Homo sapiens: one gene and its partners. The protein of the gene in region 4 purifies or fractionates together with the protein of the main gene of each other region. This does not show direct contact. Each region holds a gene or a part of one and is shown on either strand. Other genes may lie near its edges. The genes, in order: USP32, CNNM1, POMT2 and FDFT1.

What was found.
Region 1: the proteins of FDFT1 (region 4) and USP32 purify together in Homo sapiens (affinity purification with mass spectrometry; 2 studies listed by BioGRID and IntAct, with this or other methods). This does not show direct contact.
Region 2: the proteins of FDFT1 (region 4) and CNNM1 purify together in Homo sapiens (affinity purification with mass spectrometry; 2 studies listed by BioGRID and IntAct, with this or other methods). This does not show direct contact.
Region 3: the proteins of FDFT1 (region 4) and POMT2 purify together in Homo sapiens (affinity purification with mass spectrometry; 2 studies listed by BioGRID and IntAct, with this or other methods). This does not show direct contact.

What each region holds. Positions count from the first base shown.
Region 1 is NC_000017.11:60,179,119-60,186,148, reverse strand, and holds part of USP32 (ubiquitin carboxyl-terminal hydrolase 32), read left to right. Parts: intron 1-497; coding exon 498-689; intron 690-2,695; coding exon 2,696-2,984; intron 2,985-4,400; coding exon 4,401-4,825; intron 4,826-5,511; coding exon 5,512-5,604; intron 5,605-6,720; coding exon 6,721-6,894; 3' UTR 6,895-7,030. UniProt on the Homo sapiens protein: Deubiquitinase that can remove conjugated ubiquitin from target proteins, such as RAB7A and LAMTOR1.
Region 2 is NC_000010.11:99,388,338-99,394,842, reverse strand, and holds the end of CNNM1 (metal transporter CNNM1), read right to left. Parts: intron 4,538-6,505; coding exon 4,436-4,537; intron 3,407-4,435; coding exon 3,327-3,406; 3' UTR 513-3,326; downstream 1-512. UniProt on the Homo sapiens protein: Probable metal transporter.
Region 3 is NC_000014.9:77,282,882-77,289,911, forward strand, and holds part of POMT2 (protein O-mannosyl-transferase 2), read right to left. Parts: intron 5,951-7,030; coding exon 5,881-5,950; intron 4,391-5,880; coding exon of another isoform or gene 4,352-4,390; intron 3,942-4,351; coding exon 3,863-3,941; intron 2,752-3,862; coding exon 2,600-2,751; intron 2,161-2,599; coding exon 2,069-2,160; intron 993-2,068; coding exon 916-992; intron 1-915. UniProt on the Homo sapiens protein: Transfers mannosyl residues to the hydroxyl group of serine or threonine residues. Coexpression of both POMT1 and POMT2 is necessary for enzyme activity, expression of either POMT1 or POMT2 alone is insufficient.
Region 4 is NC_000008.11:11,833,735-11,839,822, reverse strand, and holds the end of FDFT1 (squalene synthase), read right to left. Parts: intron 1,436-6,088; coding exon 1,214-1,435; 3' UTR 525-1,213; downstream 1-524. UniProt on the Homo sapiens protein: Catalyzes the condensation of 2 farnesyl pyrophosphate (FPP) moieties to form squalene. Proceeds in two distinct steps.

The DNA of each region.
Region 1 (7,030 bases), on a different chromosome or scaffold from region 4:
CCAGAATGTTACCGATGTAACATTTGTGAATAAATATATAGGTGCTGTATTTGCTCAGACTCTAGTTTGGGTTGTGTTTTCTTTTCCCTTTTTTTTGAGACAGGGTCTCTCTCTGTCATCCAGGCTGGAGCGCAGTGGTGTAATCACAGTTCACTGCAACCTCTACCTCCCAGGCTCAAGCAATCCTCCTGAGTAGCTGGGACTACAGACATGTACCACAATGCCCAGCTAATTTTTAGATTTTTCTTTTACAGAGACAGGGTCTCACTCTTTTGACCAGGCTGGTTTCGAACTCCTGGACTCAAGCAATTACCCCACCTCGGCCTCCTAAAGTGCTGGGATTACAGGCATGAGCCACCATACCCAGCCAGTTGTATTTTCTTTTTCCTTATATAGAGTAAAATAAGGGTGAGTGACCAAGAGGTTGATGCATACCTAGATCACCACTTTAAATGCCTTCCCACGCACCCCTTTCCTCCTGTTCCCTCTACCTGCAGGTTGTAGATGAGCATGAGAGTGTGGAGCAGAGTCGGCGAGCGCAAGCCGAGCCCATCAACCTGGACAGCTGTCTCCGTGCTTTCACCAGTGAGGAAGAGCTAGGGGAAAATGAGATGTACTACTGTTCCAAGTGTAAGACCCACTGCTTAGCAACAAAGAAGCTGGATCTCTGGAGGCTTCCACCCATCCTGGTATGTTACAGTCCTGCCTCTGAGAGAGCAGGAATCTGGCATAAAAGAAAGAAGACATGAACAAACAGGAGGTTTTGTTATTTTTGAGAATAAGACCTTTCCTGCAGCAGTGTTTAAAACACTTTCTGTACAAGCTTTTTATGTTGAATACAGAGATGAATCTTTCTACAAATATTTTGTAGTTCTTTTTCCTAAAGAGCTTATAACCTAGAAGATCAATCATGTAGACCAGTAACTGCAATTCAGTGCAATGTGAGAACTGCCACAAGGGGTACAACGTGGTGAATTTGAACTTCAAGAGAGGTTAAACTTCTGGCTCTGTGGAGAGAGGAAGCTTAGGCTAACCCTTTGTGGACTCTAGAAGAGCAACTGAGCCTGGAGCCCCCAACACCCACTGCACATAATCATGTGGCTATGGCACACTACTGAGTTGAGTGTGTGTACACAAGCACACCAGTGCACTAGGGCCTGTGTGTTCTTTTAGATTTAATTTACTTCTGCCTTCTCCCTTCATGGATTAGGAGACTGTCCTGTTGTTTGTCAGGAGAATTTGAAGTGACAAATCTTCCTATTCATTAAGATCAGTGTAACTGTAAGGTACTGGCATATTTTAATTCAGATATTTATATGTTTTTTTTTTTTTTTTTTTTGAGACAGGGTCTCACTGTGTCACCCAGGCTGTAGTGCAGTGGTGTAATCTCAGCTCACCGCAACCTCCACCTCTCGGGCTCAAGTGATTCTCTTGCCTCAGTCTCCTGAGTAGCTGAGATTACAGGCATGCACCACTACCACCCGGCTAATTTTTGTACTTTTAGTAGATATGGGGTTTCACCATGTTGGCCAGGCTAGTCTTGAATTCCTGACCTCAGGTGATCTGCCCACCTTGGCCTCCCAAAGTGCTGGAATTACAGGCGTGAGCCACCGTGCCCAGCCATGTTTTCTTATTCTATTCATGTCTCTGTCATACTACTCTGTGAAGCTGAATGTAGGTTTTTCTTAGACCAGAACAGCTTCCCAGGGAATGATGCACAAGAAATTAATAACATTGGTTGTTAGCTAGCTCCACAGATAGGAACTAGAGGGAAGGGGCAGGCTTGGAGACAAGGTGGGTGGGGAGGAGGGGGAGACTTTTTTTTTTTTTTTTTGAGACGGAGTCTCACTCTGTCGCCCAGGCTGGAGTGCAGTGGCACCATCTCAGTTCACTGCAAGCCTCACCTCCTGGGTTCATGCCATTCTCCTGCCTCAGCCTCCTGAGTAGCTAGGACTACAGGCGCCCACCACCACGCCTGGCTAATTTTTTGTGTGTTTTTTATTTATTTATTTATTTATTTATTTTTAGTAGAGATGAGGTTTCACTGTGTTAGCCAGGATGGTCTCGATCTCCTGACCTCATGAGCCACCCGCCTTGGCCTCCCAAAGCGCGGGGTTTATAGGCGTGAGCCACTGCGCCCGGCTGACGGGTAGACCTTTTAAAAAAAATTGAGGTATAATTAGCATACAATTAAAAGCATAGATTTTTAATATCCAGTTTGATGAATTTTGACAAGTATATATTTTCATATAATCATCACATAAAACAAGCAGAGCAGTCATGTAGACCAGTAACTGCAATTCAGTGTGATGTGAGAACTGCCACAAGGGGTACAATGTGGTGAATTTGAACTTCAGGAGAGGGTGAACTTCTGGCTCTGTGGAGGGTGGAAGCTTAGGCTAAGCCTTTGTGGACTCTAGAAGAGCAACTGAGCCTGGAGGCAGTACCCACTGCGCAGTCACGTGGCTGTGCCACACTGCTGAGTTGAGTGTGTGTGCACAAGCACACCAGTGCACTGGGGCCTATGTAGAGGCCTTTATGAAACCATATTTTTGAAGTCTTTAAAAAATAATGAAGAGTAAATGTTCTGTTATATATTCCCAAACATTCACATGTATTTGACTTGTTTTTTCCATGTAAATTTTGTATCTTCAGAACCCTTTAATGCAGATGTTTTCTACCTTTACTTCTCCAGATTATTCACCTTAAGCGATTTCAATTTGTAAATGGTCGGTGGATAAAATCACAGAAAATTGTCAAATTTCCTCGGGAAAGTTTTGATCCAAGTGCTTTTTTGGTACCAAGAGACCCGGCTCTCTGCCAGCATAAACCACTCACACCCCAGGGGGATGAGCTCTCTGAGCCCAGGATTCTGGCAAGGGAGGTGAAGAAAGTGGATGCGCAGAGTTCGGCTGGGGAAGAGGACGTGCTCCTGAGCAAAAGCCCATCCTCACTCAGCGCTAACATCATCAGCAGCCCGAAAGGTGAGGCCTGGGGGCCTTATGCAGGTGCTTTCTTGGGACTCCTGTAGGCTACATATGTTTCTCTGTCTTCTGTTCTGGAACATCAGGTTGGTTGGGTGGAAAGAACCTATCTGGAATCAGACCTATCTGTATTTGAGCTATGTAAGTTTTAGCAAGAGGTTCAGCCTCCCTGAATCTATTTTCTCATCTGTAAAATGGAGATAATGCCAGGTTTACAGAGTTGAGAGTGACACATGGAGAGTAAAGCACTTCACACAGTGCCTGATATACGGTAAACAGGAATGGTAGCTGCTGTCTTGTCCCCTTATAGCAAAAGTTCTGAGGTTCCCCATCTTTCAGGGGGTCTAGAGGATCAAAACTCTTTTTTTTTTAATTTATTTTATTTTTTATTTTTTTGAGACAGGGTCTCACTCTGTCACCCAGGCTGGAGTGCAGTGGTGCAACACAGATCACAGCTCACTGCAGCCTCTACCTCCTGGGGTCAATCAATCCTCCCACCTCAGCCTCCTGAGTAGCTGGGACTACAGGCATGCACCACTGCACCTGGCTAATTTTTGTATTTTTTGTAGAGATGGTGCTTTGCCATATTTCCCAGGCTGGGCTCGAACTCCTGTGCCCAAGTGAACCTCCTGCTTCAGCCTCTTAAAGTGCTGGGATTACAGGTGTGAGCCACTGTGCCTTGCCCAAAACTATTTTCATAAAAATACTAAGACAATATGTGCCTTTTCACTTTTATTCTCTCACAAATGTACAATGGTGTGAGAGATAACATGACATGGAATAATATCGTCACTTTGACAGTGAAGTCTGTGCTAATGTATTGTACTTTTTCATTCCTTAGTTTTAATTTCTAATACGGGAAATATTGATAGATAAAATTCACATAAAAGTTCTAAAGGTTCTCAATAATTTTTAAAGGTATAAAAGGGGCTATGGGTAAGAGGCTATAACCAAAAAGTTTAAAGCCTTACAGGATTTTTGTGAGACATAGAGGTAACAATGGACAGCAACAAATTCCCAGTACCATGCCTAACAATAGGAAGTACTCAGTAAATGGTGGTCACATTTTTTGTCTAATTTTACAAAGGAGAGGAATATGTATTTGGAAAACTCCTTACTCTAATAGTTAGATTTTTTTCAACTGAATCTGACATAAATCATCTTTCTGCTATTTTCTGAGTCCCTATAATGTACTTTACATTTTGAGGACATTGTTGCTTATAGGGACTTGGCATTGAAGAAGACAAAAATGTAACTTACTGGCTACATAATAGGAACTAAAGAGTAGCCAGTCACGACTGCCCTGTCTTTACCTTTGTGTGTACAGTTGTGAAGCTAACCTCAGAGGTAGCATTTGGGGCTGGCTTACTTTGTGGCATTTGAATTTGTGAATCTTTTCTTCTGTCCTGTTCACAGGTTCTCCTTCTTCATCAAGAAAAAGTGGAACCAGCTGTCCCTCCAGCAAAAACAGCAGCCCTAATAGCAGCCCACGGACTTTGGGGAGGAGCAAAGGGAGGCTCCGGCTGCCCCAGATTGGCAGCAAAAATAAACTGTCAAGTAGTAAAGAGAACTTGGATGCCAGCAAAGAAAATGGGGCTGGGCAGATATGTGAGCTGGCTGACGCCTTGAGTCGAGGGCATGTGCTGGGGGGCAGCCAACCAGAGTTGGTCACTCCTCAGGACCATGAGGTAGCTTTGGCCAATGGATTCCTTTATGAGCATGAAGCATGTGGCAATGGCTACAGCAATGGTCAGCTTGGAAACCACAGTGAAGAAGACAGCACTGATGACCAAAGAGAAGATACTCGTATTAAGCCTATTTATAATCTATATGCAATTTCGGTAAGTGGTTTATTATATGGTTTTCAGAGAGTGGTCTGTGTTTTGTTCACTTGTCTTCATGTATTCATCAGCAAGTATTTTTTTCAGGTCCTGCTTATTTCCTAGCATTGAGCTTAGTGATAGACAAAGTTAACACAGAAATCTTGGCCTGCCCAGGTGTGGTGACTCACACCTGTAATCAATCCCAGCACTTTAGAAGGCTGAGGCAGGAGGATCACTTGAGCCCAGGAGTTTGAGACCAGCCTGGCCCCATCTCTAGAAATAATTTTAAAATGGAGCAAGGTATGGTGGCATGTGCCTGTGGTCCCAGCTACTTGGAAGGCTGAGGCAGAAGGATCACCTGAGCCCAGGAGGTCAAGTCTTTAGAGAGTTGTGATCACTCGACTGCACCCCAGCCTGGGTGATAGAGCAAGTCCCTGTCTCAAAATAATAATAATAATAATAATAATAATAATAGTAATTACAATTATAAAATGATTGTTTATCCACACAAGACTTAGAGCTTATGACTTTTGTATTTTGCTTTTTGCTTATTTTGGTTTTAGAAAAAGTTAGAGGGTTCTAAAATATTTTTTCACCTACTGATCATTTACATGATCAGTGTTCTCCTGCTCAGATCCTAGTGCTATACCCTGGCCATAGTACAGTTAACTGCTAACATACCTCCACTCTCTTATCTCTTACAGTGCCATTCAGGAATTCTGGGTGGGGGCCATTACGTCACTTATGCCAAAAACCCAAACTGCAAGTGGTACTGTTACAATGACAGCAGCTGTAAGGTAAACATTCTCAGTCTTTGAATGAAAGTTAGAAACAGAATATCAACAGAACTGGGGAACATTTGTTGAAATAATGGACTATCTCTTGAATAGGAAATAGATATTTCTGTTAGAATCAATATATAGATGCTGTCAGTATTAAAGGAACAAAAGTTATATGCAGAGTAGGGAATGAAAACATGAGTAGTGAGGAAAAATAAAGAGTTAGTTGACTGGGTGCAGTGGCTCATGCCTGTAATCCCAGCACCTTGGGAGGCTGAGGCAGGCTTAGGAGGTGGATCACTTGATGTCAGGAGTTCAAGACCAGACTGGCCAACATGGTGAAACCCCATCTCTACTAAAAATACAAAAATTAGTTGGGCGTGTTGGCGCGTGCCTCTAATCCCAGCTACTCGGGAGGCTGAGGCAGGAGAATGGCTTAAACCTGGGAGGTGGAGGTTGCAGTGAGCCAAGACTGCGCCACTGCACTCCAGCCTGGGCAACAGAGCAAGACTCTGTCTCAAGAAAAAAAAAAAACAGGAGTTAGTTAATGCAAAAACTCCTATCTTCTAGACTGTTAGAATTTGATGGGGTTGGGCCGAACACGGTGGCTCACGCCTGTAATCCCAGCACTTTGGGAGGCCAAGGCAGGCGGATCATGAGGTCAGGAGATCGAGACCATCCTGGCTAATATGGTGAAACCCCGCCTTTACTAAAAGTACAAAAAATTAGCCAGGCGTGGTGGCACGCACCTGTAGTCCCAGCTACTCGGGAGGCTGAGGCAGCAGAATCGCTTGAACCCAGGAGGCAGAGGTTGCAGTGAGCTGAGATCGCACCAGTGCACACCAGCCTGGTGACAGAGCGAGACTCCATCTCAAAAAAATAAATAAATAGAATTTGATGAGGTTTTAGGTCATTCTTTTTTGACTTGTCTATGGTCAAAATATTTTCCCCAAAGCAAACATTGGAAATAATGGGGCTCATCTTAAAGGGGCAGGTGTGAGACAGCCAAACTAGTGAGCTTATTGGAAGCAATCAGGTTTAGTAATTACAGAGGGTTGGTCTTCCCTTTCCTGGCAAGGATTTAGAGCCATAGTAGTGATGGCTTTTTGTTAAAGGTTTTTCTTGCCCTTTCAGGAACTTCACCCGGATGAAATTGACACCGACTCTGCCTACATTCTTTTCTATGAGCAGCAGGGGATAGACTATGCACAATTTCTGCCAAAGACTGATGGCAAAAAGATGGCAGACACAAGCAGTATGGATGAAGACTTTGAGTCTGATTACAAAAAGTACTGTGTGTTACAGTAAAGCTACCACTCTGGCTGCTAGACAGCTTGGCGGTGAGGGAGATGACTCCTTGTAGCTGACATTTGGCAAAAGCGTCACTGAAAGGCAAGCTAAATGTAGTTATTTTATCCTGTGGCCCTGAAGCACAAAATAAAAA
Region 2 (6,505 bases), on a different chromosome or scaffold from region 4:
CCAACAGGCCTGGCCCATTCTTGTGTTCCGTTCCCTAGCCTTTGGTTGCAAACTGCCAGAGTCATGCCACTTGGACTCCTTTCTGAAGGTTCTGCAGAAGCGAGCTAGTGTGACCAACATTCTGTCTCAGGGGCTTGTCTGGGTTTAGCCCCCAAGACCCTGAATTTGGACGGCACCCAGCACAGCACCTCACCCATCACATGGGTTCAGCAAATGCCAGCCCTTCTCACTGTCGTCTTAGTTCCTTCCTCGTCTTTATGCATACTGGCTTCTCATTTGGGTTTTACTTCTCATTTCTGGCATTCACTCCTGCAAAATCTTACCATCTGGCCTCCCAAAGTAGTGTGCCAAGGCTTCCCCGTGACCTCACCGCAGCCTCACACCTGGCCCGGAGCGGCATGCCTCTTCAGGCAGGTGGTGCACAGGTGAGATCATCACACGTGGGCATCACTCAACCTGCATCTCAAATGAAGCCACGTCAGAAGATTCCAGGGGCAAGGAAAACAGCCACATTCCAGGAAAGGCATTTTCATTTTATTTAAAAATTATTTACAATTTATTAAGCCTTCATAAATGCTTTATTTTAAAATCTTTTTTTTAAACTTTTTTTTTAACCTGAAGAAAATCTTTGTGGGGTGGGGGTATATAGGGAGGGGAGTGGTGACAGGCTCCATAGGGATTTTGCAAAGGGATGGGTGTAATGCAACAGCAGTGGCTTGAGCCTGGTGGCCTCAGGTGATGAAGACCAGCCAGGCAGGCACCCCGGGGCCAGTGGTCAGCTGGGCAAGAAGCCTGCATGATGGTAGTTCTTGTTCAAAACTCACCATTTATTGGTTTGGGTCTAAGTACCCAACATTGAGGGCTGACACTTCGCCTGTTCCTACCAGGCAAGAGCAGGTGTTGGGACTGGATGACTGTGAAGTTATCTACGAGAAGTCATGCACTGCTGAGCCTCAGGCCAGGCCAGGCAAGGGGTGTGGTGAAGTCAATAATCATTGCTGGAAAAGGCTTCTCTAGCTCCAAAGTCTTTACTTCCACACGCTGTGGCCCTCCTGTCTGCAACACCTGCTCTGGGTTGTTGGGGAAGAGGGGACAAAGTTATGTGGGGGTGTTGGTTGTACAATACTCTAGGGTGTGCCGAGAATTTCTGAGGACTTCCACTTCTTGGTGGGTGCCAGCCTTCCCCATCAATTGATGGACATTTGAAAAGACCACTTATGATTAAAAACCTGTCTCGAACTGCCCAGTATCCACTTCACTCTGCATTGCAGAAACGCTGGGCTGAAAGTTCCACTATTTAAAATAGTAGTGTTTTTTTTTGTTTGTCTGTTTGTTTTAACTCTTTGTAGGTCTGAGACCTTTGAGAACCTTATGAAAGCTTTAATGCTCTGGAAAAAACATACAAGAATAAATACATTAAATACTGACAGTTTTAGGGGTTTCATAGACCCTCTGAAGTCCAACTATGGACCCCCTGGGGTGATGGACCCCAAGTTAAGAACCCCTGAGTTAACAGTTCCTGTGGGTAAGCATTTTCTTTTGAGATGCAGATAACCCAGAGGAATGATCAGTCTCCCTCCTGCCTGTGAATGACTCAATGGGTGTGGGGAGGTGGGAGGGAGGGTTTTGGAGGAAGGGGAGGGAAGCTGGATGGTATACTACGGGGAAAGGTTTGGGAATGGTTTGGAGATTTAGCAGACAGCACTCGATCAATGAGTTCAGTGAGTACTTGACTGAGAACATCTAAAGAGTAGGAGACAGATCAGAAAGGGAGATAGTTATTCTGAAGACAAATTTCACTTACTTCCAAGTTTTCCCTAAGGCTGGCTGTGGTTGCTTTTCTTTTCTTTTCTCTTTCTTTCTTTCTTTTTTTTTTTTGCGGGGGGAGACAGAGTCTCGCTCTGTTGCCTAGGATGAAGTGCAGTGGTGTGATCTCAGCTCACTGCAACCTCTGCCTCCCAGGTTCAAGCGATTCTCCTGCCTCAGCCTCCCGAGTAGCTGGGACTACATGCCCAGGAGAGATGGGGTTTCACCATGTTGGCCAGGCTGGTCTCAAACTCCTGACTTCAAGTGATCCACCCGCCTCGGTCTTCCAAACTGTTGGGATTACAGGTGTGAGCCACCGCGCCCGGCTTTGCGGTTGCTTTTCAGAACTGTTTTATTCTTGGAAGCAGGTATGCGCGGTCACTCTGCCATCTGGTGGTTATGCTTGGAATTGCACCTGCCCCAACTTCAGGAGAAAAACCAGAGATCCAGTAAGTTCTTGGAATAAAGTACACTCAGCTGATCTGCTAGGGTGTAGTAAGGGGGTGGGAGAAGGACAAATGCATGAAAAAGAAGAATGATTCTTCAACATTCCTGTGTAACTCCCACTGAAGTCCCATGAGATTATGTATCTTTCTTGGCTGACCTGGGCACTCTTTGGTTTGTCATGGCTAAACTTGCTTTCAGCACTTACAGTTTTTCCATGTAAGTTTTGTTTGTTTTTTGCTTTGATTTGCACTTAAGACCTGAAGTTCCATCTCTGGCTCCCAGTTGGGTCTCTCTGCTCCCTGTTCCTTCTCTTCCAGAGCAGAATTATTGATCGATTGAAGACTGCTGATTGGGAGCCAAAACAGATGTGTCCCTGGTAAAAACAGTGACTTGAGGTTCCATCTCACATTCTTTCCATTCCAGCTGAGACATACTGCCCCAGGCTGCTGGAACCCTTATCTAACAGGAAACCAGTCACTAACAGTTTTCTGTGCTGTAATGTCAATCACGCGCCAACATGGCTGAGTCCCACTTCTTTAAAGCTCTGGGGGAAATTCTTGGTCCATCCCCTGAACTAATCTTCAGACCTCCTACTCCAGCCTCCCATGTGCCTGTCTGCCAATGGCACCTTCTGAGCCAAGCTATGCATGAAATGTGTTAGAAAGTTAACATTTTGTTCTGGAGGAAAGAATGGCAAGTTCCAAGACGATAGGTCTCCTATGGCATCAGGGGACCCAAAGAACAAAGAAGAGCATCAGGGGTCCCAGAGTGGCATTGTCAGCTTGCAGTCAGACATCTCTTTTCCAGTCCCAGACTATGCTGTGGAAAAGACCATTTCTAGCATGTTCTATCAGAGGCACCTCCTTCTGTTATGGCCATGTCAAGGTTCTGAGTCGAACTGGAGGTAACGAGGGAAAATCTGCCAAACTGACAGCTAGGGGTGAAGAGATGGAAGGGAAGGCAGAACATTCTGTCACCTGTGGGAGGCCTTGGGGGAAGCAGATGATGGGAGGGTGGATTCTCCCCCAAAGCTCTGGAATTTCACACACCCAGTGAATGCTGGCTTTGCCCTGTCATGTGATCAGAGGTGTTAAATTGGAGTTGTCCTCAGAGGTTCTCTCTCCTTCTGGTGACCTCTTCCTTTTTTGGCCACCTGAAAAAAACAAGTTGCAAGTATCAGCCTGTAACACTGGAGGAACATTCATAATTGCTTGGCAGTCTGAGTTCTTTTCAAAACAGAAGCAGAAATGGAGACAAAGCCCTTGACAGCTTGGTTAGAACTAACCGGCATTGTATGCTGGTGCTGATATTGGCATATTTACATCTTGAAAGATTAGGACGTACTTTCCACATAAGATGCCATCTCTGAAAAGTCACAAACCCAGGCTGGTGCCTGGAATTGAGACTTCCTGGAGGGGACTGAGTAAAGCCCATGTAACACCTCAGGCCCATGCCTCCTGCGCCCCTTGGGGGCCAGCCCCTCTGACTGCCAGACACCCTCAGAGAGGACCAATCTCATAGACTTTGATGTCCCATGAATCAGGGTTGGTGGCTGTAGCTGCAAGCCATTTCCAGGGACCTGCGTTCTCTAGCTCTGAAGCAACCTCCCTTCTGCAGTGGGGCAGGTGGGCATAATTACATAGTTGTCCTCAAGGATGAGAGAGCAATCTGTTCCCAGGTCTGTTTTTAGGAAGGAATATCTTCACCTTGTTCTCTCCACCATTGACTTCCATCTGTGGAGGAGATTGCTCTCTTTCTATTGAGTCTCCTGGACACCAATTCTTTAAAGGACTAGACAGAAAATATTAGAGGCCTGTGGGCCATATGGTCTCTGTCACAATTACTCGACTCTGACATTGTTGCCATAGATAACAAATGGATCTGTCTGTGATCCAATAAGTCCTTACTTACAAAAACAAGTAAAGGAGGGAGGTCAGAATTGACCTGTGGGCATGGTGTGCAGACTTCTGTCCTAGAGGACAAACAACTGAATGGGACAGATCCCAAAACTATCAAGGGTGCAGTGCTGGCCCAACCCCTTCTGCGGATTTCCACAATTGTACCTCATTAGGGTTTCTAAGAGGAGTCCATGGCTCCTCCCCCAAGAGGAAGATGCTAACATGCTTTTCCTACTAACCATCAGCAGGGTGGCTCTCATTTGGGTGAAGAACTAGCTACTCACTCAAGGTTCTCAGCAGCTTCTTGCCCACGTTTTCCTCAAAATCGCTACTGCAGGGGCTGGTCTCTGTATCCAGGTTGATGTTACAACATTCACTATCTGATGCTGAGAAAGGAAAGGAGAGAACTCAAGTTGTCTCAACCTACACACTCAGGCATCAAGAGAGGGTGATTCTGAGTGATGACATCCCTCAGCAAGTGAAGTTTAAGACGTGAGCCAAGGTGAGGGTGGTGTAACAAGGCAGGGACGCCCAGGGAAGTACAGGGTGTCATTAGTTAGCAAGAGGCATTTTAGTGCCACAAAAGGAACAAAAAGATGGAGAACAGGAGCCGGAATCCAACGATCCATGCAAAGTCAGAAATCATTCCCTCTTCTCAAACACTGTTTGGCAAGAGAGAGGGTTTAGAGAACAATGTGTTCTCCACCCAGTCTATTTGCCAGACTAAAAGCACACGTGAGGATAGGTGGAGGTCTCCTTGGTATATTTGCACAAACCCTGGAAAGCCACAGGGTTCAACAACAATGCCCCTGTCTTCTCCCGCAGGACTCAATGGGAATTCAAAGAGTTACAGAATCTGAGAGCCCAGAAGGGGCCAAGCCTTACCACCAATGCAAATAAAAACCTAAGGCAGAGCGGTGTGTTGGAAATGGCACTGCACTGAAGCCATGAGGCTGAGCCTGCTTCTGATGCAGTTTTTGGACTTGAGCAAGTTATTTCCCTTCTCTAGGCCTCCAGGGTCCTCAAATGTCACAGGACGAGGGTGGACTAGATGATCTCCAAGACCACTCCATCGCCTTCATTCTTATTCCTTTGTTACATTTTCTTGCTATGTGCTTTAGCTACTAGATTTGGTGTTGGGGGCAGAAAAGGAACATCAGTTCTAAATTCAGGTCCTGGAACAGTGACTATGTATGTCCCAGATTTTCTGGGTCAGCCACAAGTTCAAACATATTGTCTTGTTGACTTTAAATTTTTTTTTTTTTTTTTTTTTTTGAGATGGAATCTCACTCTGTCACCCAGGCTAGAGTGCAATGGCGCCATCTCGCCTCACTGCAACCTCAGCTTCCCAGGTTCAAGCGATTCTCCTGCCTCAGCCTTCCGAGTAGCTGGGATTACAGGCACCCACCACCACACCCGGCTAATTTTTGTTTTTTTTAGTAGAGACAGGGTTTCACCATGTTGGTCAGACTGGTCTCGAACCCCTAGCCTTAGGTGATCCGCCTGCCTGGGCCTCCCAAAGTGCTGGGATTACAGGCATGAGCCACCGTGCCCGGCCAACTTTAAAAATCTTGGAGCACTTTTTCAGGTTGTTGCTCTGGACTTGAGAGGTCTTATACTATGGACTGAAGTAGGTCTGACAGGTCGGGTGGGGGAACTGCTGGCTTGGGTGCAGGCATAGGGGGCTACTGAAAGCTTGGGGAATACATCTTAGTGAGGCAAACACAGAAGCTTCTCAAGACTGCTGGGACCCTGGGAGCTCAGAGCAACACCACTGTCAAGGCAGAAGTGTTCAGTGTCTCAGAGGGAGGTGATATGGTCTTAGACCTCAGGAAAAGTCTTATAGGCTACACCTTTGGTCAAAACCACAGCTAGTTAGAATGATGGCTGACATCAGTTTCCTAATCTGTAAGGTAGGCCTAATAATAGCTATGTAACATTTATAAAGCATGGTACTGAACACTGTAATATGCCTTTTATGTATGTTATCTCATTTATACTCAAAGCTACTTTATAAGATAGCTGTCATAATTTATACCTATTAACATAAGGATACTTATCCATTCAGATAAAAAAAACTGAGTCTTAGGTTCAATAACTTGCCTAAAATTGCATAACTCCTAAACGAAGGAGCCAGGGTCTGAATCCAGGCAGAAACCCAACTCCTAATACTGCCCTACACAGTTTTCCTAGGAGAATGAATCAGACAGGGCCTGATGCATGGTAGATGCTCAGTAAATGTTTCCTTTCCCTGGCTGTGTAAGGAGGTCGGAGGTTTAACGCACGGGCTGCGGTCCCAGGGCTCCCCTCAGCCAGCTTTCCCTGGGCCATCCCAGTGCCCAAAGGCAATGATC
Region 3 (7,030 bases), on a different chromosome or scaffold from region 4:
GATAATCACATATCTGGCTTGAGATAGTGATTCTTAAACATTATTCCTGCAGAACACAGGTTTTCCATAAGCCAGAATAAGGGGGTCTTCCACTAAACAGCAGGACTACAGCAGGGGAAAATTTAAGCTAGTGAGTAGAATTTTCTCAATTTAAAGATTTCTTCTCTGAATTTTTCTTAAACCTTTGATGCTACAACTGCTGTCAGCTACTAATGATAGAGAGTGCAAACAATGTCTTAGAAAACCTTAAAAAGAATCAATCATGCCCTGCCTAAGCAGTTTCTGTCCAGGAATATGAGTGGGCTCGTGGCTGGGATTTCATGCTGCATATAAACAACACACTCAAATTAGCTATCCATCCTAACTGATCCTGATTTCATATGATGGAATGAACTATCAGTATCTCATGATCTTCAACCAAGAGCACTATGATTTTCAGGGGCTCTGCCACTTGGGCAGATTCACAAATCACTTAGAGGTGAAGGAGTGTAGTGGTAACTAGCAGTAACTCTAAAAGCCTACCAGCCTGGCTCTGAGGGCTGGATCTACCTCTTACACTTAGCTGTGTGACCCTGGGCAAGTTCCCTGACCTCTTTGTATGTCAGTTCCCTCTCCTGTAACTGGGAATGATGGCAACCTCCATATGATTGTAATAAGTATCAGATGAGTATAGTGCTTAGCGTAGTGCCTGGCACATGAGCTGTACAAGCAGTCACTGGTATCACCATCATCACCACCATCCTCATTCTGTGGTGAGGGAAATGCCTTTGAGGATCACAGAAAACCGTAGTAAAGATGCTTTCAAATTCCTCCACAAGGGGGAATGGATCTGTAGCATGGCATTGACTTGTGATCCAAATTCATGGCTGCCCAAAAGCTCTTAGAGACGCCATGAAATGAGAAGGGGACACATACCCGGATCATGACCATGTGGGATTCCAGCAAGATCTCAGGAAAACTGGGCTGTAGCACATCCAGGCTGATGTTTGGCACTAGGGGAAAAAAATGCAGGAGAAAAGCCTTTGTCATACATTCTTTCCTCAGTCTGTCCATGGTGTCCACATTCCCACCAGAATCCAAATGCAGCCTTGCTGACAAGTTCACAACTGTTGAGGAGACAGAAGAAAGCTTGGCCCAATTCTTGATCATTTACTTAGCTGTATGAAGAACTCATCAGGCATTCTAAGAAATGCAAAGGAAATAGACAACAAGGTTTCACCTGCTTGGTGCTCCAACAGCTCCCAGCACCATTGCTTTTCACTGTGGTACTGGCTCAAATGCTGCTCTCCTATTAGGCATAAGGGACAGCTGCACAGCCCCCGAGTCACTGTGGCCCTTTGAAGGGCCTGGGAATGAGGAATAAATCATTCTGGACGCCTGGAGCAGCTGCTGTCGGGATGGGGACCAAGTCTGTCTCCTCGCCAATATGTCCACAGGGCCCCATGTGGTTCCTGGCATACTTGATAAAGAGTTGTTGAATTAGTTGATTAGTGGGTTTGGCTAGATTAGGTGGGAAGAAGAACAAAATGAAGGCACACATAAGCTTGAGGTGGGTAGTTTAGGAAAACAGATGATGAATCCAAATACTTATTGAGTTGAAGCTGACAACGCAGTGGAAATATCAAATTGGAGCTTGGGTGTAGAGATGTGGGGCACAGATCAGGGCTGTGGCAGTCACTTTCTATAAAAGCATTGGCTGGATATGTGGGGGGGCGGGGGAGCGACTCTACACTGAGGCATAAAGGGAAAGTAGCAGCTTGCTCCAAGCCTGGAGGCTGGGGAGGTGCCCATGGTGCAGGGGAGAGAGGAGCCCAGAGGAAGACGAGACAGATGGATCTGCAGATGGCCACTGGCCACTTTAGGGAGAGGAGTTTACGGAGGGAGTGGATGAGAAGGAAAAGGAGTATGCTATGTAGGTACAGACAACTCATAGAAAGAGAGTGTTAACAAGGAACAAACAGCAGCAAGTTGAAGGGATAGCACAGTTTACAAACGCTTACTTTTCTAAGATAAGGGTTTCTTATAAATGCTTCCCTCCAGAGCCAGCCCAGAAAGTGACCTCACTCACACTTGGGATTGATATGGTCCTCCACATTCCAGATGGAGTTGAGGGTTTCTTTCAGGTATGGGGTGCAAGTAACTTCCAACTGCTCCCAGCCCCTGTGAAAAGCAGAAGTCACAGATGTCTCTCAGAAGACGTGAAATCCACCAGAGAGTGACACTGTCTTCTGCTCTTAAATCCACAGGCTCCTTCTCTTTTCCACATGGTGGCCATTATTTCTTCATGTTCCATGTTGGACAACTATCCTAGGATAGTCTAGCATACAGTATTCCCATTTTAGAAAAAGACATAGACCCAGAGAGTTATTAGCACCAGCCAGATGTGAAAATGTTGAACTATCAGAACACATAAAACACCGAAGCTCCCCCGGAGTTCTGTGCTCCATAATACACCTGATATCTACTCTCCCTCCATCTGCCACTAAGAACAAGCAGACAGCAGGTGAACACAGGAAAACAAAAGCTTCTGGCATACTCCTTGTAGAGTGAAAGGAAAATCAGGACCCTCGATTGGGACAGCAAAACCCTAGAGACTTACCACTTGGGCAGAACCTTTCCCGAGGAGCCCAGGACACAACCTGTGACCAAATGGATGAAGCGAATTCGACTTCTCAGCACTTTGATCCGGTTTCCAAATTTCCTGTTTACGACCTCAATCCGCCAGAAATCATTTGAGTCCCCTGTTCCATTCTGCCATAAAAGCCAAGAAAAAAATACAAAGAAAGTGAGGGGACTTTAGAGAAAACGTGTCAGAAAGGGAAATGGCCACCCAGATGCCACCATGTTATGAAGGTCAAAGACCAAATTAGGCTCAATGATAGAGATGGGCAAGGTTACAAGAAGGCCAAAGAAATATCCCAGGTGATTGGCATTGTCCCAAAACTCACTATTACAACCAAAAAACAGTAGTATGACTCCTGGAACCAGAAGTCCAGGAGTCCAACTCTTCACTTCATAGAACTAGAGTTCAAGTTCTAAATACCTGTCTTTGCCCTTCAACCAAACTCAAGACATCACTCTGAGCCAACAGAAACAGATCTGGGCCATTTGCATCCATTACCTTGGCTATCTAGGTATTCACTCATCTAAGCCAGAAAGGTCTGGCCTGGCTATTGCACTTTGGAAATTAAGACATGTATGTCTAATTCTTCTCAGAAGATGCCCACAAAGAAGATTAGAATGTTCACAGTCTTGACCTAGCACAATGTGGAATGAGCAAACAGAAAGAGGGCTGGGAAATCCACCTGAAGGCCAGAATCTGTATACAGTTTTCCACTAGTAGTTTTTGTCTTCAGTTACTCCCAAAGCCATAAGTACTCATAGAGCTTTTATTTATTAGCTGCATCTCCTTGAGGTAGTAAAATACAAAAGCTATGGATAATATCCCTCTGCAGAACAGGGAAATGATACTTAAAAATAAAGCTAATGAGAATTTGGGATCTGGCAAAAGATAAACATACATGTTGTTCATCTGGGGTCATATTGTGGGTCCTTGGCTTCTATGTCCAATGTGATTTTAAAAGAGATCCAAATAGTATTCATATTTGACATTTATTAAGTATCAGAGCATGTAAATGGCATGGTTATTATGTGAGGAGAGAGATGGAGACAAACAGACTTCATAGGCTGCTTTTCCCAGAGCAGGCCTAGCCAAAAAGTGCCCAAATGTTAAGAGAGTCCCTGTGCAGCCTCTTATCCTCAGGAACATTCCAGAATTCTGGGGAGGAGATATCCCACCACACAGCCCTGAGCCAAGGCCCATAACTTTTACGTCCTACTCACATCCCCGTTGCTTACTTACTATGCCATAGCCGGTGACCTGATAGTGCTTCCGGGTCATGGGGGCCTCATGATAGTGACTGTGCAAGTTCCGGGAAGTTCTAGAAGTTAGAAAAGAGAAGTGTCATTATCCTATAGAAAGATGATGTGCAACATTTCTTCTTTTACCAAGGATGTTCAGAGTCAACTGTCAGGATAAGAAAAATTAGAATCTGAACTATTAAATCCAACATATCAGGAACTGGTTTCCTATTTACTCACAAGAAATATCCTGAGAACTGGAGAAGAGATGAGCCCAAACCAGGAGAGACAGATGGTAGGAGCACTGGACGGCATGCCAAGAAAGGGGCTAACTTTAGGTGCTGGCAGGGAGGTGGGGGGCGACTTTCACACATTTAGTAGCTTTGAAGCACTTAGCTTGCCTGACTTAGGAGGCAGGTTTGAGGAGAGGAAAAATTAAAACTTGTAATCTGCATGGCCTGAGCTAGGTAACCTCCTCACTGCCACTTACTCTTTCTGCTCCCATCGCCAGATTTTTTTAAGTGGACATCTGTGGAGGATGAGAGGGGTTTAATTTAGCTTTTATTTAGTTTTATATAACAACTCTCACTTTTATCTGGAACAAATAATAAATGTTCATTATAAAATTTCTGAAAATTTGCAAAAGTAAAATTTAATTACAATAAATTTTTATTAATGACAAATGAAATTTATTTAATAAAATAAAAATTTTAAGTATTCAAAATCCAGCTGACTCAAAAAAAAACCATAGCTAATTGCTTCTCTCTCTGTCTCTGTCTCTCTCTCTCTCTCTCTCTCTCTCTATATATATATATATATACCCACACACATACACACCTCTGATTTTTAAAAATTTGTATCCGATAATTCCAGTCTATGAAATGTTTACGGGGCTGCTCCTGCTGTCTGTCGTTTCAGCTTGTTCTTGCACACAGTGCCCTATTTCCTTGTGTGCTTTGTTACTTTTGGGTGTGTACTATTGTCACTAAAAAACTATGGGAACAAATGACAACGACTTTCCCCAAAGAGGGCTTACATTTGCTTTTAGCCATGCACCTAGGAGACACGACCAATCTAGGATCATGTTCATTTAAATTCATGTCTTGGAGATTCTGAGATCACCCAGGCAACATGAATTTGAGCTCCAAGTTCATGTGAGGATCAAATGGTAGTTCCAACTTCTCAGGAACTAAGGACAGTTCACCACCCAACCCCCAACACTTAGCTGGGTCCTAAAGTGGACCTGGGCATAAGTGGATAGGGCAGATTTACCCTTACCCCAAGCCTTTGGGGGTTCCAAATATGGGGAAGGATAACTTAATAAATTTACCACTTTGGGTGAGCCTAGGTTTGACTTTAAAACCTCTTCTCTCAAGAGACAGCCAAAAGTCAAGATTGTGGGATCAAAGCAAAAGTGGCTTCAGTGTCTCACTTATTTCTCTGGATTCCTCATTTCACTTAGGCTTTGGCCTGGTAACTCTTTAATATCTTGTCAGCCTTTTTATGCTCTTAAGAAGTCTTTATATTATTCCAGCATTTTTAGTCATTTTCAGTGAGAACACTGGTTAAATAAGCTAGCTTGCCATATTCTCAGAAACAGACTCCTACGTCTTTCTAAAGGCAGCCACTTAAGAAGAAGCTTTGGGAGCTGGGTGTGATGGCTCATGCCTGTAATAGCAACCATTTGGGAGGCTGAAGCGGGAGGATCGCTTGAGCCCAGGACTCTGAGGCCAGCCTGGGTAACATAGTGAGACTCTGTCTCAAAAAAAAACAGCAGCAGCAGCTTTCAGCAACTCAAATTTTCCTCTAGGAAATGGGAAATTGAAAGGTCCCCAGAAGGCAGGCAAAGGCTGGCCTGCAATTTCATCACCTTCATAAAATGCTTCTCCCATTCTCGCACTGTGGCCTTGCTCCATTGACCAGAGCCTCATCAAAATCTAACTTCTGTTTACTTCTTAAAATAACTCCCTCCCCTTGGTGCCCGTACCATTTATTTATCCAAACTGCAAATTGACTTACTCTTTGTGTTCTAGTCGAATAATGTCTCCATGTCTTACAAACTCCACTGGGAAGGAAGGGTCTAGGGGATCTGCCAAAAAGAAACAAGCATTGATATCCAAAATCACTCACCAGGCTAGTATTAATCAAGGGCCTACTGGTAAACAGTTATAGTACCATGTGGTATCTGCTAGAGGTACTAACCAGGTACTCTGAGACCAAAGAGGAAAGACCCCTAAATTGCTTCAGGGTATTAGAGAAGGGTGTCCCAGAGATAATGCTCGAAAAGACTCTTAAGGGAAAGGGAGAATTTTGTCAGGTGAACAAGCAGGAGAAAGGCACTAGAAGTGTGAAAGAAGAAAACTTCTGGCCGGGCACAGTGGCTCACGCCTGTAATCCTAGCCCTTTGGGAGACCGAGGCGGGCAGAACACCTGAGGCCAGGAATTCGAGACAAGCCTGGCCAACATGGTGAAACCCCATCTCTACTAAAAATACAAATAATAGCCGGGCGTGGTGGTGCACGCCTGTAGTCCCAGCTACTCGAGAGGCTGAGGCAGGAGAATCGCTTGAACCCGGGAGGCGGAGGTTGCAGTAAGCCGAGATTGCGCCACTGCATTCCAGCCTGGGTGACAGAGCAAGACTCTGTCTCCAAAAAAAAAGAAGAAGAAAAACTCCTTCGATGAATAGCAAATGGGTTTCATACTGTAAGGGTGGGTGGGGTGGGGGAGAGTGGGAACAGATGAGGCTATGAACGAGTGTGGCCAGACTGCATATTCCAGGCTGGAATGTGGCCTTTACCCGATGAGGCACTGAAGCCCCCACTGGAGCTTAAGCTGGGAAGCTAAATAGTAAGACTTTAGTAGTAATAACAGCCTTCTAAAAAGTAATTCCATACAAATGACCACTTGCCCAACTCTCCTCAAAATCAAATAAACCCTGACAATCTTGCCAGCGAGTATCTTGTCTCTGGCAATAAACTTGCTAAATGTGAGGTGAATAATGATGAAATGATTAAAGGACTACTTCTGTATCATCTCAAAATCAAGACCAATCAGGATCTAGAAAGGTGATGACATGGAAAAGGAGCTGGCAGTAATCATAGCAACACAGAATGGATCCTTGCAAATTTCTGTCCCAAACAGTGAGATACCAACACACTATAAATTGATC
Region 4 (6,088 bases):
CGAGCAGAAGTACTGTTCTGCCCCCAAGCCAATCACCTGAAGACAGCTTTTGCCTTTCTTAAGACCTGAATATATAAACTGATAACTTTAGAAAACAAAAACTGCTGGGGGAAATTTTTTTTTTTTTTTTTTTTTTTTTTTTTTTTTTTTTTTTACAATTTTTTCCTTTTTTTGAGATGGAGTCTCGCTCTGTTGCCCAGACTGGAGTGCAGTGGCGCGATCTGAGCTCACTGCAAGCTCCGCCTCCCGGGTTTAAGCCATTCTCCTGCCTCAGCCTCCCGAGTAGCTGGAACTACAGGCACCCGCCACCACGCCTGGCTAATTTTTTTTTTTTTTAGTAGAGACGGGGTTTCACCGTGTTAGCCAGGATGGTCTCGATCCCCTAATGTCGTGATCCGACCGCCTCAGCCTCCCAAAGTGCTGGGATTACAGGCATGAGCCACCACGCTGGGCCATCAACTCCATTCTTGAGCTCCATCTTTTCCACAGTCAGGCAGGCTTTCAAGCGAACTGTACTTGACAAATGCAGAGCAATTAAATTCTTTATTATAAAAATCTCAAAAATGTCCACCTTTACTGGAGACCAATCTTCTAAAAGGTCAAAAGCAATCCTGCTGTTTCTCTCTGAAAGCTAAACTCCTTTAAATGAGAATACGAGAATACCCAGAATTTTATTCCCAGCCTTTGTGTGGAAAAGGCAGTTTGCATTCTTAGGAAACATCTAACTGTTACCTAAACCATAAATATTTCTATCTACTCCATTCAACCCAATTAAAGAAAACAAAATGATGAGAAAAATAGGAGCCGAACAGAAAGAAAATTCACATCATTTTCTACTATTACGAACATTCAAATGGTGCTTCAAATTAAATACTTTTAATTATCATTCTAGCCAGGATCATACTAAGTAGGATCTCATGACAGTCACATATGCAGCGACTTCACCTAAACCGTGGCACTGAATGCTCTGCCATGAGCCACAAGCAGCACAGTGATCATCACCCACAAGGACAGGTTGCTGGGATGAGGCACCCTTTCCTTTCATGTTTAGGTTCTTCTCACCTGCATTTCACTTTCCTAAAGGTCCCAGCCACACAGCGTTCTTTTAGGGATTAAAGTAGTAGGAAAAAAATAAAGAGAACACAACATCCATCCTTAAAGAAAAAAAGTAAATCCACTTTATGGTGGACTTCAGCTATGGACAAATTTGGGATCAGTGTTCTCCAGTCTGAACATAGTCTTCTGTTACCTGGGAGAGAGTGGTCAGGTACTGCCAGCTCAGGGCAGCCAAAAGCATGACAAACGACAGGTAGATGGGGGAGTAGTGGCTTCGGGAAATCAGCTGACAGTTGGGAAGATTCTGCGTCCGGATGGTGGAGATGATCTGCCTTGTTTTGCTAGAAGATGGGTCTGAGTCGGGGATTCTATGATAAATCTGTTAAAGACACAGGAAAAAATGATAAGTGCTATGTGCTTTACATTTTCCATGGCTACTTACAACAACCCTCCACTGGCAGGTATTTTATACCCATTTTACCAATGAGGAAAGGGAGGCTCAGAGAACATGAACATAACTTACCCAAAGCCATCCCAATGATAAGGTGGGGATGTCAGCCCCAGCTCATCTCAAAGCCTGTCTTCCTGAGCAAACAGGAGGCACAGGTGTGCATACTGCACCCAGAGGCCCTCGAGAGCAGCGGCTGAGCCACAATGATCTTCACATCCCCAGCACCTCACAGTGCCAGGCCCAATAAACGTCACCATAGTTCACGTAGACAGGCACAGACTAACATGACGAAAGGGAAATGCTGGAAAGACTGGGCAAAAGCAGCTTAGAAACAAGATGGAACACGCAGTACAGACCACAGCTTGACAAAGGGGGACAGGAACAGAAGCAGGGAGCCGTATGAACCACCCTGGAGTCCTCCCTGTGCCTCCCTCCCCACTCCTCCACAAGCCTCCCAAGTATGTGCAGAATCCATCTCTTCCCCTACATCCCTAAAATTACTGCCTGAGATTAGGCCCTGAGTGCCTCTCAGATGAGCTATCTCAGTCTCCAACGTGAGTCTAAGCTTAAATTCCCAAATCTACCTGTCTGCTCTACACTGTCACCAAGGAGATCTCAAACCTCTGCTTGATGCCTCAGTGGCACCAGCCCTCTCACCTGGAGAAAAAAAGCCTGAGCTCTGTAATGTGTAGCGCAAGGCCACCCATGGTCCAGACCTACTGCACCTGTCTAGTGTCACCAGCCCTTGCCCACCTCCCTCTCTACAGTCTAGTAACAGTTGCCGGGCCAGGCACAGTGGCTCATGTTTGGAATCCCAGCACTTCAGGAGGCTGAGGCACGTAGACTGCTTAAGCTCAGGCGTTTAAGACCAGCCTGGACAACACAGTAAAACCCTGTTTCTACAAAATGTACAAAAATTAGCCGGGCATCGTGGCATGCACCTGTGGTCCCCCAGCTACTTGGGGACTGGGGTGGGAAGATCACTTGAGCCTGGGAGGTGGAGGTTGCAGTGATCCGAGATCATGCCACTGCACTCCAGCCTGGATGACAGAACAAGACCCTGTCTCAAAAAACAAACAAAAACAAAAGAACAACTGTCTACTGTTGTTTCGCCCATGCGATGCTGCTGCACACCTCTGTTCCAGTCTCATACCACTCCTTCTCTCTGGAATGCGCCTCCCACGTCCCTTCAACTGGCTCCTACCTAGGCCCCCAAGTCTCAACTTCAGGATTATGCCTTCTAGAAAACCTGTCTGCAGCTCCAGGTTCAGCCAGGAGCCACCCTATTGTACATACCTTTACCTTTCCACTTACGTGGAAATGGACCATCTGTAGTTTTCACCCTGACTACACCGCACCTACTTACTCACCTTTTTATCTCCAGCCTAGCCCTGTGCTGGCACACAGCAAGCGTGCATCCCTGGCTAATTTTTGCATTTTTAATAGAGACAAGGTTTTACCAGTGTTGGTCAGGCTGGTCTCAAACTCCAGACCTCAAGTGATCCACCCACCTCGGCCTCCCAAAGGGCTGGGATTACAGGCGTGAGCCACTCCACCCAGCCAAGACTTTTCAATACAAGCATCCATAAAGTAAAATATATAGTGATGAGATAATTCTATTAGAAGTCATCCTTCTGCCTGCCCATGTTGCTTTACTGCTTGTCTTAGCCTTCCTCCTAAAAGCAGAACCTGAGGCAAAAGCTTGCATGCAGCCATTTATTTGGAAACGAGTGGAGAAGTGAAACAGAAGGCAGGAAGGCCTATCAAGGATGTGTTGAGTTGGCTTGATCTTGAGGGACCTTCAAGGAGCCTTATGAAAGGTGGCCCTGAGGAGCAGAGAGGTGGCCCTCACCTCCTCTGGGTTGTGGGGACCCACGTGCCAGGCAGTTCCTGCAGCTCGTCAGAAGCCCAAGGGCAGGAAGCGAGAGGTCTCTGGAGCAGAAGGCAAGGTCCAGCCCTACTTGGAAACTGGTTGCTACAGCAGTGGCCGAAGGCCAAGATGAGTGGCAGTGACACACAGGGTCTCACACACTACTCTTGTAAATGACCTGAGTGCCCTGATGCCATCAAAAGCCATAAAATAGGCATTCACTACAATGACCCTGAGAATAGTTTCTCAGGTAAGTAATGGTTTTGGTATATTGTAGATTTTTTTTTTTTTTTAAGATGGTGTCTCGCTCTGTCACCCAGGCTAGAGTGCAGTGGTGCAATCTTGGCTCACTGCAGCCTCCACTTCCCAGGTTCATGCGATTCTCCTGCCTCAGCCTCCCAAGTAGGTGGGATTACAGGCACCTGCCACCATGCCCAACTAACTTTTGTATTTTTTTTTTTTTTTTTTTTTTTTAGTAGAGACAGGGTTTCATCACATAAGTCAGGCTGGTTTCGCACTCCTGACCTCAAGTGATCCGCCTGCCTCAGCCTCCCAAAGTGCTGAGATTAGAGGCATCAGCCACCATGCTCGGTGACATTTCACTTTTGAAAATTTAAGACTTACCTTCTCAGAGCAACTGTACAAGCAATGTACAAATAAAGGATGATAACATCAGCACCAAACTACACACTTATTCATTCCTGGGTTAATTCTGTGGCTCCTATGACTTTATTTCTTCATTTTACTTTCTCATCTACTTGTACTTTGTTAGCCTGTTGTACTTATAACCATAAGCCATCTTACATCCTTTTGGGAAAAAAGATTTACTTATTTGGAATCAATCGCTGGCACCCAAGTGAATATACACAACCAACAAAAACCCTTTTAGAGAACTCCAAGAGCACTTCAATATGCCCTTCCAGGAGATAAGTAAGGTGAATAAATTAAGAGAAATCTTGGTTGTGACAGTCCCCGGTAATACAATTAGTGGCAAAACTTTTGAGTCCTTTGATGATCATTTCTAACATATAAGCATGACAGCACAACTGGAAGAGCTGCAGTCACTGGTACTCAGACGTGGACTTACCTAAAACAGAGCCGGTAAGGCCAAAGGGACCTTCTAGATGCTTCGTTGCTAGACCAAACCCCACTCTCCATTTACCTGAAGGCACACAGTAGGTTTCTGCAAACTCAATTATTCAGGTCTTAAAAACCTACTAGCCTCAATCAAGGAGTTACATCTGCTTGTCAAGGACAGGTCATAGCCGACTTTTCATCTACATGCCCGGCATAAAGTTGAAGCCAAATACTTGAGGGGTTTGAGAAAGGGCCTTCACCCTGTTGCCCAGGCTGGAGTGCAGTGGTGCCATCTCAGCTCACTACAACCTCCACCTCCCGAGTTCAAGCGATGCTCATGTCTCAGGCTCCGGAATAGCTGGGATGACAAGTGTGCACCACCACACCTGGCTAAATGTTGTATTTTTAGTAGAGACAGGGTTTTGCCATATTGGCCAGGCTGGTCTCGAACTCCTTACCTCAAGTGATCTGCCTGCCTCAGCCTCCCAAAGTTTTGGGATTACAGGTGTGAGCCACAGTGCGAGGCTTGATGATTAAATGACACAGGCTCCTATAAATGTTTACTAGACTGAAATAAGCTCTTGTGCAATGCTGTGCTACATACAGCAGCTCCTCTGTGAGTCCATGTGGTACTTCCACGTCTCAGCAGTTCTACTTACAACTGCGAATATGGAATCAGCTTGATCATCATTTAAAACTCTTGTCTATGAACATCTAAACTTCCATTAAAGCAAAAACATCATTTGGGAAAAAAAGGCAGATTCTGATTCGATACGTTTGGGTGGGGGCTGGATGTCTTAATGGGCTCCCAGGTGATTCCTGGCAGCTGCTGGCTGGGGACCATCCTTGAGCAGCTAGGCACCTGGGGCTCAAAGAGCCGGATGATTCTCTGACTTAACCACAGGAGGGCACAGGAAGTGTGCAGAGACACGAACAAGATTCTCCCTGCCAAGGAATTCACTTTGGCAGAGAGGGGAATGGGGGTTTCTGGCCGTTTGGCTGAGCATTTATTTCTATCCCAAAATAGCAGGTTGATCTTCTCCCCAGCTGACAAGCATCCAGGCTGGTTTGAAGCAGAGGCTGCTCCAGAGTGGGGTGAGGGCCCTGCAGTGTGGCCAACTGCTCGTGAAGACCTGGGGCTGCACTCCAAGCCCCCACTAAGCACTGGAGAAGCATGAGGAGGTCCTCTGGCAAGTCCCTTCCAGGTGCATGCTCGCTACAACACTAAGTCCAGAGATCGGACAGAGTCAACGTTTCTTCCTTTCTTACTACAAAGGACAGACTTGGTCAGCAAGGAGAAATAGGATCAGTGTTAATATCTGGACACCAGCAAGAGGCCAGACGACTTGTGGCTTCATACAAAATGTTTTCATTTAAAACTTTACTTGTAAAATGTCCTTACTGCTGAAACTAAAACCATTAACAGGTTCTACTGCTTAAGACTTAGAAATCTTCAAAGATTTCCCTAAATCAAATCAACTTAAGTATTAATATTAACATTTCTCCCCTAATGCCTTGAGTTTTACTGGGATAACAGAACAACTGATACCCTAAGTCAGAAGTCAGCAAACCTCTTATTCAAGGGCCAAAAAATATTTTCAGCTTTACAAGTCATCGCCTGTTGCAGCTCCTCA